Linked DNA regions of Homo sapiens: all the other regions are reported to be linked to region 1. The links are microRNA targets in miRTarBase. Many come from high-throughput screens and were not tested one by one. Region 1 holds a microRNA gene; each other region holds the end of a gene's coding sequence.

Region 1 (7,544 bases):
GCCACCCTGAGAGGAAAACAGGCTGTCCTCAAAGGAGTCCGCATGGAGGAGTTAACCTCTCCTCAAGTGTCCCAGTGGAGTGGTAAACCTTGTCCTTGCCCCCAGGGACCCACCCTGAAAAGCACTGGGTCCAGGAAGGGACCTAGCCCTGTGGCTAAGCCACAGACCCAGCCACTGGGGGAAGGCACAAGTTGGCATTCAAAGAGGAGGGAACCTCACATAACTCGCAAAAACACATCGCATTCACAGCAAACACAGCAAAGCAACCCAGGGCTCTTCCCTCCACCAGCCTCACTTCCAGGAAGCTTCCCTCACGCAGCACGGAGCCGGGGCAGGGGCTCTCAGCTCACACAAGGCACACACTCTCACGTCTCCTGTGGGGGCGGCCCTCCGAGGCAGAGTCTGATATTCAAAAAGAGGTTAACCATGTATTATTCATGATGAATGAAGCGAACATAACACGGATAACCTCTCCTCAAATATCCTTGCATAGTTCTGAAACGAAAACCATGGCCTCTTCCCCACCGTTGTCTTTGCTTCCAGAAGATTCTTCTTGGGATGAGCTGAATCCCAGGGTTGGGGCAGGGAGGTGTTCACATCCTGCAAAGAAAGCACACGTACTGGCATTGACCTTCCATTCCCGTACCTCAGTCTCAGGGCCCAGGCAGCCCTGGCACCAAAGTCAAAACCCTGACATTGGAACCATGCTCAGAAAGACTTCTAAGGCAGGTTCCATTAAAAATATATGAAAGCTTCCTCCACGGATTCCTGAAAGACGGGATTTGATGACGAGAACCAGCAGAATGCATGTCAGAGATAAGCAAAGCCATCATGAAGAATTCTGTTTCCGATAAAATGGGGTGTCACTGATCCCTGAAGACAGGGTCCCTACCGCAGAGATGGTCTCAGTTCCTGGAATTTCCTCCCGATGACTGCTTGGAAACGGAGGGTCACAGAATTCCAGGGCCCAGCACATCAATAATGAATAAGCGTGCCGTTGACCTGCACCCGACAATCTTGCAGCAGCTTGACACCGGCGGCCCCTCCCTGAAGCAGGTCTTGTATCTGGGAAGCCCTTTGAGGCATGATTTGATTTTAAAGAAAAGTAATCTCATGCTATTTACGCATGTGAAAGTGAACCCTTGTTCACAAACCAAAACATGGCACGTTGATTCTGGGCCGTTCTCCCACGATGGACGGTATATGGCATGTGGGGAGACAGGCGACACATATCACAGGGAAAGCACCTGGTCTCCAGCCCCAAACCACTGTGAGTGTTGTCCACAGACCGGCGGTATTAGCATCACTTGAGAACTTGCTAAAAATGCAGAATCTTGGTCCCTGAATCAGAATCTGCTTTTTAACAAGATCCCTAGGTGATGAAAATCTTAGGAGCATTTTTAAAGTTTGAGAAACACTACTCTAGCCAACTATTCATATGCACACGCACACAAACACACACACACACACACACACACCCCAGAGGTGCTGTCGACCACAACGTCTTATTCCATGAGAGTCTGTCTAAGATGGGGTGGTTCCCAAGGAAGGCACGAAGCCATGCCACGTCCACCAAGAATAATCCAAATACCCAACAGGCAGCTGCTTAGGAGCTGCCAAAAAGTAGTAATAGTAACAGGAAATGTACGGAGTTTTTACTAATGTTTGCATTCCCTACAGGAAGTGTTTCATACTCAGAATGAAGGCTACAGATAGGAGAGGCTGGACCCAGGTTCCCCGGTCCACCATCTACCTAGAGAGAGGCTTGACCCCGGCATCTCTCCAAGGAATTCCTCGTGGCTAAGATTTAATAACAAGAAGAGAAAGAGAGATGAAATAATTGTGAACATCTTCCAATAAAAAGATATGGCACCAAGCCCCTAAATGGCATCTCCACCCCAAAGCTAGCATTTGTCCAAGGAAATCACACTGGTGGCTTGCATTCTGAGATCACTGGATTCATCATTATAAATCATCAACACAGTCACACTCCATGGTGGGGCAGGCACCAATGTCCCCTCACTGAAGTCAGCACTGTGCTTTCAAAAACTTCTGAAGCAAATTTGGATACTAAAACAATGGTTGTCCGATATTAATCATCATAAATATAGAGACCATACTACGGACAGCCATTCTTTAAGCACCAAAGAACTGTGCCATCAAGAAGAGCTGGGCATCTTCTCCAAAGTTGGTGTCTCTTCCAGAAAGTTCTTCTCAGGTAGTCCAAACAATGAGGATTAGCAGGTCAGCTTCACACATTGAGAGTCAAGCCCATGCCTGGGGGTCAGTCACACTCTTGGGCAGGGGAAGGGGGTCTGGCCCCAATGATCGGTCCCTAAGGTTTGCTTCATGTCCAAGAAGTGCCTCCAAGAAGCAGGATTTGATAAGTAGCTTGAATGCTGCGTCACCCACAACACACACCCATGGCCAATGCAAATCCCTGATAGCACCAAGGAGTCCCGTGGCCCCCTGCCAAGCGTGGCCCCGCCTCCAGGGTTCTGAGGTTAGGGCACAAGTGTCCCCACCACAAACCAACTGCATGCGCCCTCATCCCCACCCAGGCGTGAGCCCCTGGGAAGGGCTGATGCGTGCATCCCTTTACAGAACTTGTCATGGCGTCCAGGAAGTCTGCCGAGGCAAGATTTGATACTCAAAAAGAAATTGTCCTTGTATGATTCATCATAAATAAAGCGAACACACCAAGGATAATTTCTCCTCAAGTATGAAACAGCAGCACGGACCACCACCTCCAGGTCTTTGGCTCAAGGTTAGATGGTGACTGCTTCGTGGCAAACCCAGTCACACACTCGCTCATGCACACACACCACGCACACACAGGCATGCACAATGCATGCACCAAGTTTGACCTCTCTTTAAGCACCAGGGAAGCAAGATGCCATAGAATCCTCACTCAGCTTGGCATCCTCGCTCAAGACTCCTTCAAAGCGTAGATAGTGGCCGAGGTCAAGAACCCAGGGACTGTCTCTCTTAAGTGGAGCAAATGTTCTCGGCACCCCTGCTGACCCCCACTGCATGTGGCATTCTGTATCAAAAGCCACTGTGTGAATGGCTTAGCTGCCAAGCATCAAGAGCATCACTAGCCCCCATTGTAAACACCGTGTATGCTCTGGGCTTCCTAGTCCATTCCATACCCGATGAAGGACTTGACTTCCATGTTTTGACACTGTTCCAAAAACCCATGGAGAGATTTTAGTCATAAAACCACCACCACCACCACCACCACCACCACCAATGATAGTTTCACAGCACACAAGGGTCCTGGCTACCACCTACGAAGTGCCGACCACGGGGCTCTGCTCTGAGCCGTGTACAAGTCTTAACTCGTTCAGCCCCAGCAGCCCCAAGAAATGGACGCCAATGTGATTCCCCTTTGACATGTGAGACAATGGGCACAGCACGATGAGATCCTTGCCCAAGGTTGGACGGTTAGTAAATGTCAGAGGTGGGATCCAAACACAGGAAATCGAGCTCCAGAGTCTGCGCTCTTGATACTGAAAAAGTGGATGACCCTGTACGATTCGACATGAGCAAAACGAACAGGACAGGGATAACCACTCTCCAAGTACCAAAGGTTAGCACGGAAAAGAAAGCCACTGCCTTGGGTGGACTTGGTACGTCTTCAAGGCGCGGTCCTGGGGATGAATTAGATGCTGAGGGTTAGTGGACCGGGTCACATACCCCAAGCAGAACATGCACACTCACGGACCGAGTAACAGCAGGGACCACAAAGCCACTACCCCACACGAGCGCCACCCCAGCCATCGGCCCGGGCTGATGACTTCCCGCTCAGGAAGCAGGGACCCAGACCACACACATCGTGCATGCTTTTGGCCCCGCCCACACTGCACCAGGAGAGGGGATGTCCCAGAGGCCACTGCCTTCCCTAAAGTCATCCAGGTGCCCGTGAAGTCCTCTCTGTGAAGTGGGGACCCGTGAACGATTTGCCACACACAAAACGGATACACACGGTCATGCACACACATACCGCATCCCTTGCTGAGTGTGGACTGGGTCCAAGACAAGGTTTGATACTCACAGAGAGCTTGCCCTTGTATATTCCATGTCAATAAACCGAATATACAAAGGGCAACCTCGCTTTAAGTACCAAACAATAGCACTGGGCAGGTTCCTCACTATCATTCACGGGGCCGGCCTCCTCTCCCGGGGTTCATCCTGGCGGGGGAGGGGGTGGGAGATGCGGGATCAGCAGACCAGGTGGCAAACACCACCTGCCAGCTGTGTGCCCATAGGTCAGCTCTCCATCCCAAAGGGGCCAGGAAGGGGCAGACGCCAGTGCCCCTTCACCAGAATCAGCCTCTTTTCCAGGCATCACTCCAGATTAGAACTTGTTCCTGAAAAGGAGATCCACCCCACGGGCCTTCCTGGGCACACGCAGAGCTCAGCTTCTCACTTTCTATAGGAATTCCCTGGGGTGGGACCACCATCTCCTTCCCAGTGTGGGCACCTCTCCAGGAAGTTTTCCTAAGGATGCACTCAGCACCGAGGTCCCAGGCACTGGATGAATTTACACCTTAGACAAAGCAAAGGCCCTGTGGTCACCATCCCTTCATCCATCTCACAGAGCCGTTGACACCAGTGTCATTCTCCATGCCAGCCCTTGCCCCACCCCTGCCAGAGGCTGGCATCGTGGCCATGAAGCCATGCTAAGAAAGAGCACAGGGTCAACAGTAGTAAACCCCACGTACCCCCAAGTAACTGAGGAAGCAGACCCACAGCCCATTCCCCACAGTGGTCTCTCCTTCAAGAAGGGGAGAGGAGCGGGAGCCGCCTGGTCCAGGTGGCAGGTTATGTGACTCATTACCCAGGCGTGGTGCTCACCTCTCTTCAGCTGGACGTTCGCTTTCCTTGGGCTGAGGATGCTGCGAATGTCCTTCCTGAAGCTGGCTTCGGGTCCAGATGACCCCCATGGCAGTCGGGGTGTAAAAAGCCGGCAGTCACACGGCCCAAGGAGTGTCTCCACAAACACAGAACAAGAGTCCCATTCTCAGGCAGCCATCCTAGGTGTGAGCAGAAAGCCAGCAGTCAGAGACGGGGCACAGACATCGAGGCAGAAGCAGGCGCCCTCTGACCTCCCACATGCACGCACCTGGTGCGGGGCTGACAGCTCCCACGGCTCATCCCCAGCGCTGCCTTCATGGGCAATCACAAATGACAAATAGAAGCAAACCATTCTTACAGATTCAGCCTGGGGACTGCGAGCTGGATCATGAACACCCAAGCATCAAAAAAAAAAAGCGCTGATGAGCACACCTCAGCCCCTTCCCCAAGGTCAATACCACCTCCAGGAAGCCCTCCTGGGGCTGGCCTACCAGGCTCGAAAACAGCATAGACAGAGCCAGTGCTCCGTGGTCCACCATCACTGCTGTCTGTGTTCCCCTTGAAATGATCCAACATCCAGGTCCCCCTTCTAAGGCTGATGCTGGGAACAGGAAGCCTTCTGTGTATGACTTGGTACCAAGAAGAGGCAGATCAATGTGTGATTTATCCTTAAAAAAGCAAACCACCATTAAACTTGGAGCACACAAAAAGGTCCCTCCTCTCCCACTGCTTCCAGGGAGTCCACAGGAAGAACCAGCATAGAGGGCGAAGGCAGAACCCAGGGGCAGCGTCACAGCCAACCTCACGTTCCCGGACATGGAAGCCAGGCCATACCTGAGAGGGGCTGACATCCGAGGCTTTGTCCTGGAGACAAGCAGGGTATGAGTGTCTTCTCCGACAGTTTGATACGCAAATGAGAGTCTCCCCCTGTATATTCGCCATTAATCAAGTGAACATACAAAGGGTATCCTCTCTTTAAGTACCAAAGGGTGGCTCAAAGAGCAGGTGAGGACCATGCCGGGTCTTTGCCGGAGTGGACATCTCCTCCTGCGAGGCCTGAGACCAAGGGGGAGGGGCCCGGTGACAAGCCTCATCTGGCTGACCCTGGAGCTGGGCCTGCACCTTGCACATTGTGGCCTGGCCCCGAAAGGTGGCACATCCAGGACTCCCTGCAGGCGAGACTGGCTTCTAAACAAGGGAACAGGTAGGCATGACTATCAGTGTGCTCAGCATGCATGGGTGAACCTGCTTCAAATACCCACAAGCTACATGGACAATGGAACCATCACCTTTCTCCAAAGGGGCACAGGGTGTGAGGGCTCAGCCCGGCAAGACATGGAGTTATCAGAGAAGAAGGCATCTGCAGGCATTCTCAGAGCTGGAGAGCGCTGAGACAATGTCTCTCCTCTGAGGCTGGTTGTCCTAGAGATGACCAGATCCAAGAATGTGTCACCTGTACCTACCTCGAAACAAACAAAAAGAGGGCCCCAGCGTCAGACTCTAGCGACAAAGGAGTCCTGAAGACCAGACACACCTGCCCAAGGCACACTCAGGTGCAATCACTGGACAATGTGCTCCGAGGACTGGCCATTGGAGTCCAGCGACAGTCCCAGAGGGCACAGGCAGGCTCAGGGAGCTCCACCAGTAACTTGCCTTAGAACAACCTGACATCCATGTGCTTCCCTCAAGGCTGACACTCTCTCAAGGATGGAGACCACCAGGGAGTGGCAGGTCAGGGGAGTAGCAGGTGAGAAGCAGCATCAGCTCTGCGCTCCACCATCCACCACCCATTCGTGTGTCCGGAGAGGTGCGAGGTTAGTGCTGGACGCAGGAAGCCCTCTGGGTATGACTTGGTATGGAGAAGAGGCAGATCCATGTGATTTATCCTTAAAAAAAGCAAACCACCATTAAACTCAGTGCACACAAAAAGGACCCTCCTCTCCCACTGCCTCCAGGGAGTCCACAGGAAGAACCAGCACAGAGAGCGAAGGCAGAACCCAAGGGCTAGGATCACAGCCAAGCTCACGTTCCCAGACAGGGAAGCCAAGCCGTACCTGAGAGGGGCTGACATCCGAGGCTTTGTCCTGGAGACAGCAGGGTCTGAGCGTCTTCCTCGACAGAGTTTGATACGCAAATAAGAGTCTCCCCCTGTATATTCGCCATTAATCAAGTGAACATACAAAGGGTATCCTCTCTTCAAGTACCAAAGAGTGGCTCAAAGAGCAGGTGAGGACTATGCCGGGTCTTCGCCGGAGTGGACATCTCCTCCTGCGAGGCCTGAGACCAAGGGGGAGGGGCCAGGTGACAAGCCTCATCTGGCTGGCCCTGGAGCTGGGGCCTGCCATACAGTTGACTTTACTTCCCAGCATCTCTTCACGACAGGATTGGTTACCAAAAGACAGGCAATCCTGTACCATTTGAAATAATGTAAATGTAAAATGGCTGAAATCCCTTTAGGGCCTGCAAAAACACCCTGGGAGAAGAACCTCTGCCTCTGCCCAAAGCCACTGCCTCCAGGAAGCCCTCCTGGTGAACACTGGCTAAGGGAGGTTAGAAGATGCAGTCACATGCATCATTAAAGAAAAAAGAGAAACAGAAATCCAACGCACTCCGTTTGCAAATCACAAAGCAGCACTATGACAAGTGTCCCTTCTCCTGAATTTGGCATTGTATTCAGAAAGCCA
Region 2 (7,544 bases), not on the chromosome of region 1:
TGTACAGCACACCCTTTAAAATGGCTAAATGAGAACCAAAAAATATAAAAAACAAAAAAAAAAAGGAAAAGAAATGGATAAATGAAACATTTTATTGGTATGAAATGACATATAAATTCTTGTAGAAACATGTACAGCAGCAATAAATGCCTGCTTCATGTTCTTCACTTTCATTGTATCAACTCCATGACACTGAATATATTCTTTTTTGTTTTGTAGGGTGGATCTATGACATCACGCAAAAATATGATTTTTCCTTCTACATATGTGGTTTGCTTTACATGATAGGAATACTCTTTTTACTTATTCAGCCGTGCATTCGAATTATAGAACAATCCAGAAGAAAATACATGGATGGTGCACATGTTTAGTATCATGTAATGTTCCGTGTAGGTTTCATTGTAATACTCATGCCTACCTCGCATGGTTGCTGTGAGGCACCTATGACAGGACGTGGGAAAGCATTTTGTACGGTAACTGGCACTGTCATTTGTAAATGCCATTGTCACAGCCTCATTTGTAAGCAGCACTGCCTCTCTGTTTGGGGAGATGTAATGCTGGAAGATCTTAAGGACTACATACATTCTAGAGATGACAGTGTTGTTCAAAGACAGCCTAGTAAGTAATTGGTAGAAATGCCCTTATAAAAACCATTCTCTTGTCATCTACTGGGACTAGGGTTTTAAATACAGCTTTTAAAAACAAAAACAGGGAATAAAAGCTTTTCAACTCAACCACTTCTTTGTAAGACAAAACTGAAGTATCTGTGTGCTTCCAGAAAGCTTACAGATAAATGGGTTTCAAGCACAAGAATATGACTAGATTTCAGAAATTAATTATTACAGGGAGCTATTGATCTACTAGCATCAAACAAAGGCAAGCTCTAATTCCACAGGTAATACAATTTAGTGCAATTAAAGAAACACGGCTTGTATTTTTATGAGGGAATTCTGCAGCTAGGGATTGTGACTCCTAAATCCTCCTCTAAAAGAAGGCACTTGCCATTAATCCTAATTCAGTGCTATCCAGTTATAAATGGAATCTTGAGACAAAACCTTAACAAAGAAATAACAGTAATGATTTCCTTAGCAGAAGCCGTATTTGTACGCACAACATTAAATCAAGGGCTACAATTCAAGCACTTTTATTCGTATCATTGGCCTCTTAGATGATATAAGCATGAGGTGGGGCCTGTAATATTTTTTTCTGAGTTTCTTCTGCCCAAAAATATAATATAGAACTAATTGCTAACTGACAAATAAAGTTAATAGTTAAATCATCTCCAAGGAATGTTGCTAATCCAAAGTATAACACTATCAATTTGTGAGGATAATAAATGGAATGCCATTAGTGTAGATGTCTGTGCCACATCTGACACTGGAGTAGTGATAACAAATAGCCCATCTCTAGACTCTCGTGTTGTTATATAGACCATTCATTTGCCTGAGCGTGGCACAGTTTTAAAAATAGTTCTCTTGATTGATTTCATACAGAAGATGACTGTGATCCATGACATCTAATAATGCCCTTTCTTTATCTGAGATGTCTATTTTTCTAAGCCAAACGTTTTTCAGACTGCAGAATGTTCTTCCCAGATCATTTGAAATTTCTGGCTGCCTTACTTGTTTACAGATAGTTTAAGACTATTTAAATTTCTACTCACAATTTGATCATCACACACACACAAATCCTTGAATATCATTGCCAGTGTCTTAGGTCAAATTTACCTAAAGTGAATACAGCCCATTCTCAATTATCCTTCACAATTAGACGCAGGAATGCTACTAGGAATTGGAATCAAACAATGCCACCCCAAGCGTAATTTTAGCCAGCAGTTTCAGTTATACTCAACCATGCCCTTCTGAGCTGTTAACAAGTGATTCAATGGACAAGTTCTCTTTTTGTTCCATCTCCATTATTTCCTGCTCTAATGTATAGTGGGAGTGGTTGTGTAATGAAAGGACCACCAAAATAATAAAAGGCAGCTAATGGAAAGGAGAGACAAAAGCATGGTTAATATATATACTTAATATTACCTCCAATGACTCGGGAATTGCCTGTAAATTATTATAGACAATAGATTGCATGTCATACTCCATTTGGTTCAACACAACAACCTATGTGTTATCATTACAGCTTTGGCTGCTGTTAAAGAATCCAGCTCTCTATTTTGATAAAGATAATCTTAAAGCTGAGGCAATGCTCCCTCCTCTATCTCTCTCTGTGTAATTTACCATAGAATTAGGATGATTAGATTGAAACACATGTTGTATGTTTTAAAAACTACATTGCTTCATTACTTTCATTTTCCGACAACATCAAACTAACAAGAGGCAGTGTTAAATATTTTAAATGGTGCTATAGCCAATGTATTTGAATGCTTGCACTGCTGGTTGTGTATCATCAATATGAACTTTTTATCCAATGACTCAACTCTAATTACATCTAAGTTAGACTTGCTCACGTTCAGTTTGTACAGTTGTGTGTTGACTTACTATGTTTTGAAAGTGGTGACTTCTACCGAATGAGTGGAAGTTCCCATTGTCAAAAAAAATAAAGACCTGCTTGCAGTATTCATGTTGACAACAGAGTAAAAGAGAATACTGTAAAGAATTACTGCAAATATTTCCTGTTTATGTTATTTGCCGTTGTTTGAAGATATTATAAAGGGTTAATTGTATATTTATATCATGTGCTTTATCGTTTTCCCCTCATGTATCCAAGTAATTTTTATTTACATACAACTAAATAAATGTTGTCCTCTTTGAAGACGGTCAGTGAGTTTTTGTATAAAATTTCTATTTTGTTGGCCTCGAAGAGAATAATCCTAAAATGTAGGTGGTAATTATTTGTTTCATTCTTTCCCCTGAAAAACTATTTCTCTAGGTATATTCACAAACCACATGGACAGAATCACCTAGAATGATTATGAAAAGTGCTGAGTCTAAGTATTAAATTTAAAATGCACACATCTTTGAATCCAGCAATTGTATTTCTAACATCATTTTCTACATGTGAACACAGACTAATATGTAAGGATTTTTTGTTTATGGTTTGTTATATAAAAGACTGGGCCGGGTGCAGGCGGTTCACGAGGTCAGGAGATTGAGACCATCCTGGCCAACATGGTGAAACCCCGTCTCTACTAAAATACAAAAAATTAGCCTGGTGTGGTGGCGGGCGGCTGTAGTCCCAGCTACTTGAGAGGCTGAGGTAAGGGAATCGCTTGAACCCGGGAGGTGGAGGTTGCACTGAGCTGAGATCGCGCCCCTGCACTCCAGCCTGGCGACACAGCAAGACTCCTTCTCAAATAAAAAAAATTAAAAAAAAAAGACTGGAAAGAATTTAAATGTCTACCAATAGATAACCGTTAAAGTATAGTACAACTGTTAAAATACAGTATAAAGTATTTTAAAGTATAGACAATAATACAGCGGAATTTATAGAATTATTAAACAAAAAAGGCAGATCTATATGTAGAATTAGGAAACAGCCTGAAGATATAGTGCTTTTAAAAAAAAAAAAAAAAAAAAAAAGCAAGATAGGCTGGGCGTGGTGGTTCATGCCTGTAATCCCAGCACTTTGGGAGGCCAAGGCGGATGGATCACTTTGAGCTGAGGAGTTTGAGACCAGCCTGGGCAATATGGCGAAACCCCATCTCTACTAAAAATACAAAAATTAGCTGGGCGTGGTGGTGGGCACCTGTAATCCCAGCTACTCAGGAGGCTGAGGCAGAAGAGTCATTTGAACCCAGGAGTTGGGTTGTGCCATTGCACTCCAGCCTGGGTGACAGAGCAAGACTCTGTCTCAAGAAAAAAAGAAAAAAAAAAAAGCAAGATAAAGCAATATGTTTAATATGCCCCCAATTATATGTTTTCATTACAAAAAAAAAGTCATTCATATATATAATAGGCTTAGACATGAATTGACAATTGCTGGGAAGAAACATAAGGAAACATAAGAAAACATTAATAGTTGTTGGCTCCAGGGAAGAAAATCTGGGGACTAAGGTAGGTCTGATTTTTTTTTCCTTATGTACATAATGCTTTTTCAATTTAAAACTTGTATCCAAAATTATTTTGAATGCAGATACTTGGGCCTACTTAAAACCTAGAGAATTGAGAATGGGACCAGTAAATCTCCCTTTTTAGATAAGCTTCTCAGTAGATTCTTATGCATATTAAAATCGCACACCCGGTCTCAACATATTTAAGGGCAAAATATTCCAGTGAATTTCAAATACTTGTCCTGAACCTCTCTCGTTATTTCCTTTTATACAGCATTCTGGTCAATTACTATCTATAAAGACTTCACAGTATATAATCTTTTACTCGGTCCTTTTCCAATCAACAAATGTGGACTGGGCTTCTATAGGAGCAAGGCAGGCTAATGCAAAACCCCTGCCCTCAAGCAGCCTGCATGCATAAGTAACCTACTACTCCAGTGCAGGAAGAGTGATAACAAAGCCAAGGGAAATGACTCCTGACGTGTTTAAATGAAGCTAGAGCCTGCCATGGTGGCTCACGCCTGTAATCCCGGCACTTTGGGAGGCCAAGGTGGCTGGATCACCTGAAGTCAGGAGTTCGAGACCAGCTTGGTCAACATGGTGAAACCCCATCTCTACTAAAAATACAACCATTAGCCAGGTGTGGTGGCATGTGCCTGTAATCCCAGCTACCTGGGAGGCTGAGGCAGGAGAATTGCTGGAACCCAGCAGGCAGAGGCTGCAGTGAGTCGAGATCATGCCACTGCACTCCAGCCTGGGCGACAGAGCAAGACTCCATATCAAAAACAAACAAAAAAAGGTGTAATTAATAATATGAAAGAAGTAGGGCTGGGTGTGGTGACTCACGCCTGTAATGTCAGCACTTTGGGAGGCTGAGGCTTGAGCCCAGGAGTTTGAGACCAGCCTAGGTAACATAGTGAGACCCTGTCTCTACAAAAAAGTTTAAAAAGTTAGCTGGGTGTTGTGGTGTGCACCTGCAGTCCCAGCTACTTTGGAGGCTGAGGTGGGAGAACTACCTGAGCCCAGGAGTTCAAAGTTGCAGTTCAGGAGCCGGGATCACATCACTGCACTCCTGCCTGAGTGACAGAGTGAGACTCTGTCTCAAAAAAAATAAGAAGTAGCAAAGTTCAATGAAACAATTAAAGAACTATCACTAGGAATGACCACTTGTCAAATGAAAGATACAGACTACAAGTGCTAGTGTTACAGTTCTGAAACTTGGGTTTCAGACACAAACAGCTTTAAATAGTGATTCCTCTAGACCTCTAATAAACAAATACACCCCACCATTGGTGTAAATTTCAGAAAGAAAAAACCAGGAAACAGGAATGTTTGCTATTAACCCAGCTAAAACCTGATAAAAATATTTTAAGAGCTGTATAGTCGAAAGTACATTTAATTAAAACCAATATTTAGGCTATATATGTATACATACATTTATTTGAGTCCTCTGTTCTCTCTGTAACAGCTTCTCAGTCAACTGAATTTCTTGCGAAACTCCTGCTAACTATATGTGCTCCCTCTGTTTCTCCTCTCATTGACATGATTTTTGCCAAGGATAATGTAAAACCTTACTGGCCATTTGGAAAACAAGAGCTTCTGAAAGTGGCTACTCTAGGACTTGTTCTTCCATTTACTACTGTCTCTTCTTCCTCTTGCCACTTTTGACACCAAGAAAACTTCTAGCAGCCCAAGGACCCTTCAGGAACACAGAAAGGACATCACAGACTCCTCCTTTTTGGGTAGGGTACCTCTGTTTTTCCTCACGGAGCCCCAAGAATCGTGGGTGGACAGGCTCCTCTCAGTCTAAAGTGCTACTCTTTTTTTGTTGTTTTTTTTGAGACAGTCTCACTCTGTCACCCAGGCTGGAGTGCAGTGGCATGATCTTGGCTCAGTGCAACCTCTGCCTCCTGGGTTCAATCAATTCTCCTGCCTCAGCCTCCTGGGGAACTGGGACTACAGGCACATGCCACCACGCCAGGCTAATTTTTATATTTTTAGTAGACATGGGGTTTCACCATGTTGGCCAGGATGGTCTCAAACTCCTGACCTCAAGTGACCCTCCTGCCTCGGCCTCCCAAAATGCTGGGATTACAGGCATGAGCCACTATGCCCGACCTAGCTCTACTTTCTTTTATATTGAATTCCTTGATCTTTTCAACTTTCAGATGCATACATGTTTATGTGTTTTAGTTATATGTTGTGTCTACATATACACATATGTCTATACTTGTGTTTGGATATTGTCTACATGGTACCAAATTGCCGTAACAATAAATGAGTAATCAAAAATTAAATAAATAAGCCCAAATATTTTTCAAGTTCTTGTGACTTGAGTAAATCTTTTGGTAAATATGAGTAGTTTAATATAGTTGGTTTAATAAAAACAAATGTCTTTTGACTTATCAGCAAAATATGCATGTATTTAATGTTAAGGTGATTGCTTTTATGATACTTAGATAACATATGATAATATTAATAGCAAAATGGTTAATACAAAATTTAAGTTGAGATGATGGCTAGATTTGTCTAACGGCTCATGAAATTTTTCCAAACATAGTTGTTAAGAAAGAATAAGGCTGGGCACGGTGGCTCATGCCTGTAATCCCAGCACTTTGGGAGGCCGAGGTGGGCAGATCACCTGAGGTCAGGAGTTCGAGACCAGCCTGGCCAATATGGCGAAACCCCATCTCTACTAAAATTACAAAAATTAGCCAGGCATGGTGGTGTGCACCTGTAGTCCCAGCTACTCGGGAGGCTGAGGCAGGAGAATAGCTTGAACCCAGGAGGTAGAGGTTGCAGTGAGCCGAGATCGCACCACTGACTCCAGCCTGGGCGACAGAGTGTGACTCCGTCTCAAAAAAAAAAAAAGAATAATTAAAATAAATGTAAATAGGAAAAAAGTTTATAAATTGACATAATAATTATGTTTTATAATATATTTACTTTAAGAGGTTTCTAGGCTGGGCCCAGTGGCTCACGCTGTAATCCCAGCACATTGGGATGCCAAGGCAGGCAGATCACTTAAGGTCAGGAGTTCGAGACCAGCCTGGCCAACATGGCAAAACCCCGTCTCTAGTAAAAATACAAAAATTGGCTGGGTGTAGTGGTACATGCCTATAATCCCAGTTTACTTGGGAGGCTGAGGCAGGAGAGTTGCTTGAACTCAGGAAGCAGAGGTTGCGGTGAGCTGAGATCATACCACTGCCCTCCAGCCTGGGTGACAGAGTGAGACTCCTTCTCAAAAAATAAAACAAAATAAAAGGTTTCTATATCCTTAGAGTTTTGCTAAGGCAAATTACATGATAAATATTCATTAAATATGTAGGTCATTTCCGAATAAGATATAATGCTATGACATTCAGTACTAAATATTAGTTTAATCTTACATACTTTTGGCTTCTTATTTCAGAGAAACGAAATATATCTGGATGTTAGTAAATATGTCCTATTCCACATTGAAAAATGGTTCCATGGCTAGGCGTGGTGGCTCATGCCTATAATCCCAGCACTTTGAAAGGCTGAGGCAGGCCTGAGG
Region 3 (7,544 bases), not on the chromosome of region 1:
ATTTATTGAGTTCTGAGGGTAACTTGTTATGTAGCACTTCATTTAATCCCAATTTCCTCAGAGTTAGGTTCTATTATTCCTGCTTTACAGAAAAGGAACCTGAGGTTTGGAAAACTTAAGTTATCTTCTCAGGGTCACACAACTCTTGGCGGAAACTCACATCCTGTATGTTGAGCCCTTGAGCCTTTGTTCTTTCTTCTTCTTCACCACCATTCCTCCTCAGTGGGCTGGGGAAGCCTGAGGTGATACCTGACAAAGATTTCTCTTTCTTTCACCAAACTCTAGCTAGGCCCCTCTGAGCCTTCTTTAATAGGCCTGTCAACTTTTGCCTATTAAGACTTGAACAACACTAACACTTTCTAATAACTTTTAAAGTGCTGGCCTGAAAAACTCAAGGCTGTCCAAAGAATTTCTTCCAGCCAACACCTGAAGATAAGACCCCTGTCTCACAGTCTCTGTGGGAGGATAGGATCCTAATTCAAGTGCCAGTAGCAAACCCAGATAGACTGCACATAGACCAGCCCCCTCCCTTCCTGTGTTTTGTAATTTTTCACTTTTCTGACTCTACTGAGCCCCTCTTCTCCACCCCCTCCCTATTTCCTCACCCTTCCTTTAACATACTCATTCACCTCTGTACAAATCAAAGCTGGGTTCAGTTCATGCCAAATTCCTTTCCCCATTGCAATAGTTATTACCAATTAAAGTCCGTTCTCCCCACTGTCATAAATGTCCAGCTTTGTTCATCTTTGACACACCTAGTGAGCTTTGCAAGGTAGGCAGGACTCCCTCGGCAGGTAAGCGTGGTAATAAATGGGGTATGGGACACATTCTAGGCAGAAGGAACAGCATGGCCAAAGGAGACATTTTTTTGTTCAGGGAGGCCAAGAGAGCCTGTATGGTTGCCAAGAGAAACCCCAGTCTTCTGAGATCTGTCCTAGGAGGGCAATATTGTGTGGTCTTTTACTGAATGTTCAAATGTAGCCTATATTCCTAAGATGTGTGACTCTGAGAGAGACTCAGGTCACTAGCATGAAGATGATTATGGCATTTACCTTACAGTATGTGGGAAGATTATTAAAAGCAGGAAAAACACGGCAACAAACTTCCATGCAGAGGCACTTTGTTGCTTGCTTTATAAATCTTTTAATTCTTACAACCAGCTGGTAAGATGGGAATTGTTTTTGTTTTGATGGAAAAATTGGGAAATGAAGTGACTTCACCAAGTTTATAGAGTAAGCAAGCGACAGTCCCAATAGGCTGAATTCACACCTAGGAATTTGGATCCAGAGCATAGAACATTTAATTGTCTCAATGCAGCACACAGTGCAAACACAAGGCCCAGTTGCTGCTGCTATTAACAGTATTGTATTATGATTATAGTTTTTCCCTATTTATCTTTGATGCCAGAGTGCTTACACTCTGCACCTCTTGGGCCATATGGCCTTGTCATTGTCTTGTATCTTGCATCAATTACTTTTGCATATAAAGCTTTTTTCTCTAACACAATTGCAATTTGTTTAAAGACTGACTCCCCCTCAGCAGCAAAAAAATAAGTTCCCAGGAAGTGCTCAGTGATATGTGCCTTGCTTCTTTCTAGATGTTTACCAACAACTGAGCTCTAATCACATCTGACTGGCCCAAGGCTAACAAGGAAACTGTTTGACTTTCCAGGCATCAGTGACCTTCAATGACAGGCTCTAACCTCCATTTAGGAAGAGTGAAAGCAGTGGCACCCAGCCCACAGGACTCTGTATTCAGAGATGATGATGAAGACCTGTAGGCTTCTGGTCTCTGGGTAGAGCCTCCCCTTTCCTTCATGTGGAAGCCTGATGCCTCCTTCACTCGGCCCGTTTTCCAAATCTGTAGGGCACCCTCCTTCCTTCCCATAGACCTGCTAGGTTCCCATCTCATCTCCTACCTGGTCTCTTTGTTTCTCCTCAGATTATTTAGGGCAAGAAACATTCCCTCCCTCAAAATGGCTCAGATACTCAAGAATTTGTTGGAAGTTAATCGGGGGGTTTTGTAAGAGCTCTCCTCTAAAAATGTTAAACAGTAAACACATGGGAGTGACAAGTGATTAGATGTGACCTTTGAGACCAGAATGATGAAGCAACCATGAGAAGACAATGATGATGTAATCAATAGCTAATACTTATTGAATGCTATTGAGAGGCCAGGGATTGTTGTAAACACTTTACACCAATTAATGCATTTAATCTTCATAATAATGCTGTGAGATAGCTTTATTATCATTTTACAGATGGAGAAACTGAGGCAAGACACAGTGAAATAGTTTGTCCAAGGTCACACAAAGCCAGTATTCATGCAACTTGGATTTAAACCCAGGTAACATGACTCCAAAGTTTAATGCTGTTCACACACACACACCTCAGGGCTCTTAAAGGGTATGGAGTGTTTCTTATCTATTAAGCCCATAGTGGATGCTCAAGAAATGGTTAATAGGTATGACTGAGGAAATAATATGATGTCAGTGACATCATAACATCATTATGACATCAGCCCAACCTTCTATCATAACAAAGTAATAGTCTCTTATTGCTCTCTTAAAACTATCTTCATTTAAAAAGATGGCCTTCTTTTTCCTAGTTCTGTATTGTGAAGGCACTTTAAATCCAGAAACGTAAAGCATTATCATGTGTATGCCCATGCTTTTTAAATGACAAAGCACAGGTATTTCGATGAATCCTCTCATAACAAAGTGACATGGTAGCATTAAACTATGTGTAGTGGAAACAAAATCTGGGCATTATAGGACTACTTCATCTCTGTGGTACCAGTTGCTTGGGAGAGCAGAGAAAGGACACAGAATGAGAGAAAAGAAAGCTACTCTCATTATCCCATAAGTATATATGTGGTAGCCAGTCTATCCATACTTGCAACTGTCTGATACCACATCATGCTTCCTTAATTGTATTTATTTACTTTGGAGACAGGGTGGTGTTCTGCTGTCCAGGCTGGAAAGCAGTGGTGTGATGATAGCTCACTGTGACCTTAAAACTCCTGTACTCAAGCAATCCCTCCCCACTCAGCCTCCTGAATAGCTAGGACTGCAGATGTGTGCCTACACCTGGGTAATTTTTTTTTTTAACAGACTAATGAGTTTTGCTATATTGCCCAGGCTGGTCTCAAACTCCTGGCCTCAAGCAATCCTCCTGCCTCGGTCTCCCAAAGTGCTGGGAGTACAGACATTAGCCACTACATCTGGCCCTTCCCTAATTATAAATCTTCCAAAGATCCTTCAATGTTTCACAGAATTTCAATATAAATTTCATGATTAAAAATAAATCAAATGAAAGATAAAATCCCTGCAAAATAGTAAAAGTTTACCACCCCATTCCAAACCTACTGTCTCTTGCAAATTGCTATTGGAATATGCCTCTGTGCTTTGGCTTTCTGTTAAGGTAGCACATATATCAGAGGAGATACATTTTGTTGAAAGTCAGAAACCTTATCACTCATTCCACACCAGAATTATCATAACTATAACATAATGTTCCTTTTTAAAATAACATATCTTACTACTCTCACCTGAGATAAAGAACAAAATCTGAAGCATAATCCATATCACACCCCTTCACTTGCATCAGTGTCCATACACTCCAAATCAAATTGATCTGCATTACCTTTCTAATCACAAGATAGGATTCTAATCACAGGGCCAGTGAGACTGTTCCATTTCTTATCTAGAACTTAGAATATTTGAAGCCATCCTGCCTCCTTACAAAACATAATTATCTGTCAAGGTTCAGTGCAGAGAACAAAATCTCTCTTAACTATTTCAAGACATATATTGCTGCAAATTAGTGCTTTCAAAATTGGTAGGTGGGCTGTAAAAGTAATGAGAACACTTCTGGGCTAGTGATTTCAAGGTAAACTCCCGTAACTATGACTCAGGGATAGAGAAATGACGGTTGCTGCAATGATGCTGCCAGCAGCACTACCTCAAAGCCACAGAATCTGAAACTAGACATGGGAACGTGGAATCCAGCTGCAGCAAGTATGACAGAACTCGACTGTCTGCTTTACCTAGATTAACACCCAGCACACCGCATACACACACGCACAGGCACATGCAGGGATGCACATGGCTACATGAGTAGTACTCATTACATAATTAGTGTTCATCATTTAGGATTCATTTCAAAAATCACATCTCGCTAAGCCTGCTCTGATCTCTTGTAGTATGTTGTTTCTTGGTTATGTCCTCATAGCACTTGTAAACCATTATTTCAAATTTATTTGCTATCCATCTTTCTTGTCAGATAACATCCCTGCGAGAAAAAGATCAGATTTGTTTTGTTCATTATTACAATGGTTATCAAAATGTGCTTTCTGGACAGTGTGTCGCCTAAGAACGCATGAAAAATGCAAATTCAAATCAACTCATACAGAAACCCTAAGATTCAGACTTAGCAATCTGTGCTTTAACAAGCCCTCCTACTGACTTTGACACACCACTAAAGCTCAGAACTACTGGATTCCTATATCCCATCGCTGTGTAATAATACACGAGTGATGCTCAGTAAATTTTTTTGAAATGTATTTGATTAAGCCTACTGGAAATTGACTCTGAATAATCCTCATCAAAATACTGCTATTCTTAGTATAAAGAGCAGGTCATTTTTCTCTAGGTTTGCTAGTCTCCCACTAAAGGCTACGCTAAGGCTAATCTTAGTGAAATTTTTTTTACAGGAAATAGTCACAGTGAAAGAGTTTGTGATATACAAAATGATTTTATTAGATGCCAAAACTTTTATTAACATCACTTTATTTCTTTTGCAGCTTTAATTTTCAATATTATAACACTTACTGGCTCCTCTGGGTGACTAAATATCTTCACATGCCCACTAGCTAAAAAGAATTTCTAAGTAGAACTCAACTGAAACTGCAAGCTACTGCTCTAAGAAATGCATATTTTATTATAATGTTTATTTGCTCTCCTGTAGAATCCAGTTTACAAATAGCATGACTGCAAAGATTTACACATAACTCCTAAATCCTTCAGGTTGTTCTACCATTAATCTTCTGATGTGTACCAAGATAAACACTCTTAGTGAACACTTTGCTACATCTCTTAAATGAGATTTCTCTCCATTTTGAGTTCTCTGCTGTAGAATAAGGGATATACTTGGAACTGAAGACTTCCCTCAATTTCTAAATTTTCTACATTCATACAGCTTCTCTCCTGTAGGAGTTTGTAAAAGATTCCTATTGTCTGTAGTCTTTCCCACATTTGCTACATGTACAGGGTTTTATCCTAGTGTGAGTATACTTATGTCAATTAAGGGATTAATACTGACAAAGGCTTTCCCACATTTATGGTCTTCATATGATTTCTCTACAGTATAAAGTCTAATAAACAAACTGGCCTGCATCTTTGCTAAAAGGTCTTCCTATATTCACCACATTCATAAGACTTTCCCCAGTATAAATTTTTCTAATGTTAAATAAGGGAGAATCTAGGAAATTTACCATGATAACCACTGCTTCATACAGTTTCTCTTCTGTAAGATTTCTCACATGTATAGTGATTCATATAGTCTAAAGGCTTTTCCACACTTACCACACTATTGGGTTTCTCTCCATTATGTACTCTTTGATGGGCAGTAAGATTTGAGCCTTTGCTAAAAGCTTTCCCACACTCATTACATTTATATGGCTTTTCTCCAGTGTGAATTCTCTGATGTACGGTAAGGTTTGAACTACAGCTGAAGGTCTTCCCACATTTAATACATTCATAAGGTTTCTCTCCAGTATGAATTCTGTGATGTTGAAGCAGGGATGACCTATGACTAAAGGCTTTCCCACATATACTGCATTCGTAGGGTTTCAATCTAATGTGATTTCTCAAATGCATATTCAGTGATTCAAGCTGGTTGAAGGATTTCCTGCATTTCTGACATTCAAAGGGTTTTTCTTCAGTATGAATACTCTGATGCTGAACAAGAAATGAGAGGCTACTAAAGACTTTCAGACATTTGTTGCATTCATATTGTTTCTCCATAGTGTGAATTCTTTGATGTCGAGTAAGGTGTGAGCTACAGCAGAAAGCTTTCCCACATTCTCTACATTCATAAGGCTTCTCTCCAGTATGGATTTTCTGATGGTGAATGAGAGATGACCTATGAATGAAGGCCTTTCCACATATACGACACTCATAGAGTTTTTCTTGAGTATGAATTCTTAGATGTTCAATAAGATGGGACACACGACTAAAAGACTTTCCACAGTTCATACATTCATATGGTTTCTCTCCAGTGTGAGTGCTCTGATGGTTAGTAAGTGATGAGACATGGCTAAAGGCCTTCCCACATTCAATACATTTGTAAGGTTTCTCTCCACTATGGCTTATCAGATGTCGTGTAAGGGATGAGCCATGGCTAAAAGTCTTCCCACATTCACGACATTCATAGGGCTTCTCTCCTGTATGAATTCTCCAGTGGCGATTGAGGATTGACTGTTTGCCAAAGGCTTTCCCACATTCACTGCATGTATAGATTTTCTCTCTATTACAAGTCTGGGGAAGGGTAAGAGATTTGCCCTGGCTGAAGGCTGCCCCACTTTTATTAGAATTCAAAAGTTTCTTTCCACCATTGACTTTCTCATTTTTTATAACTGACTTTTTTGGTAAGTTCTTCTTTAATATATCATATTTGTGTGAATTCCCTTCAGCAGAAATTTTTTGTGGTTCAGAAAGAGTAGACTTTGAATGAAAGGTGCTTCTAAATATATTGTATTTGTAAACACTGTCTGCAGTGGGGCTTTCTCTAGAGGTGAGAATTGCTGGTCTGAAATGGTCTACCTGACTTCCATGCTTCCCTTCCAACTTCTCTATATATTCCAAATTCTTCTTAGAATTTGAAAATTCATAACTTTGTTTTACAACTTTTTCTATTATTACTGTTTGGGGTGAATCTTCATCATAATTATCCTTCTTTGTTGATAATTCCTTGTTTTCCCATCTTGATTCCCAATCTGAAATACATCAAAAAAGCAAAGCACTGTTTTGTTTTTTTTTAACTATTTGAAAAGAAACTTCTAAATTGGAATTAGGAGAACTGGATTAGAAATGAAGCCCCCAGAAAACACATAGTTCTGACAACTGAAATATTTCAATGATTTCTGAACAGTGCTCAAATGGAGCAGAGAATACAGAGTTCACAGAAGTGGGAACACAGTGTGATAATGGAAATGGGAAAAATATATGTAATGGATGAAATAGTATGGAAAAAAAGGAAGTTATCAGAAATAAAATGTGGAAGGCATTCTGGATTCCAAGCCATCATTTTGTGCCTATATGCATGTATGAAAGATTGCATTTTGTCTCATAGCCTTTTTCTCCAACATTCAATTAATCTCAATTTGCTGCCAGATTAACATGCTTAAAATACAGAATTGATGTTATTAAACAGTTGCAGTAAAAACACAATAATCTAAATGCTCTTTATAGCTGACAAAGATTTAGGCTTTCTGAAGTTATGAAGAAACTGTGTGAATCATGTCATTTATTGGACATTAGAAAA

The links. Region 1 holds the annotated microRNA hsa-miR-381-3p (UAUACAAGGGCAAGCUCUCUGU, at 4,056-4,077, opposite strand). A microRNA usually pairs through its seed, bases 2 to 8, with sites in the 3' UTR of a target mRNA and lowers its output. Matches are read on the target gene's strand: a 7mer-m8 pairs with bases 2 to 8, a 7mer-A1 pairs with bases 2 to 7 and ends in A, and an 8mer does both.
Region 2: miRTarBase lists SLC16A14 as a target of hsa-miR-381-3p. Seed matches in the 3' UTR shown: 7mer-m8 at 929-935 and 7mer-A1 at 2,676-2,682.
Region 3: the mRNA of ZNF181 is a reported target of hsa-miR-381-3p. Seed matches in the 3' UTR shown: 7mer-A1 at 4,742-4,748.

Annotation. Positions count from the first base shown.
Region 1 is chr14:101,042,501-101,050,044 of GRCh38, reverse strand. It overlaps MIR381 (microRNA 381), which reads right to left and starts at 4,125; the gene lies at 4,051-4,125. It overlaps MIR1185-2 (microRNA 1185-2), which reads right to left and starts at 5,847; the gene lies at 5,762-5,847. MIR381HG (MIR381 host gene) reads right to left here and starts at 4,888. Exons shown (of 3, transcript NR_104192.1): 1 at 4,861-4,888. It overlaps MIR487B (microRNA 487b), which reads right to left and starts at 3,590; the gene lies at 3,507-3,590. It also overlaps MIR539, MIR889, MIR1185-1, MIR544A and MIR655. RefSeq lists enhancers at 3,279-3,779, 3,780-4,280.
Region 2 is chr2:230,030,207-230,037,750 of GRCh38, reverse strand. SLC16A14 (solute carrier family 16 member 14) reads left to right here. Exons shown (of 5, transcript NM_152527.5): 5 at 220-2,769. The coding sequence ends at 371. The region is part of intron 1 of LOC107985996 (a long non-coding RNA gene); the gene reads right to left. Among named protein-coding and RNA genes, the nearest start is that of SLC16A14, 35 kb to the left of the region's middle.
Region 3 is chr19:34,740,063-34,747,606 of GRCh38, reverse strand. ZNF181 (zinc finger protein 181) reads right to left here. Exons shown (of 4, transcript NM_001029997.4): 4 at 2,229-6,996. The coding sequence ends at 5,510. It overlaps LOC124904698 (a long non-coding RNA gene), which reads left to right. Exons shown (of 2, transcript XR_007067235.1): 2 at 1-723. Among named protein-coding and RNA genes, the nearest start is that of ZNF181, 9.6 kb to the right of the region's middle.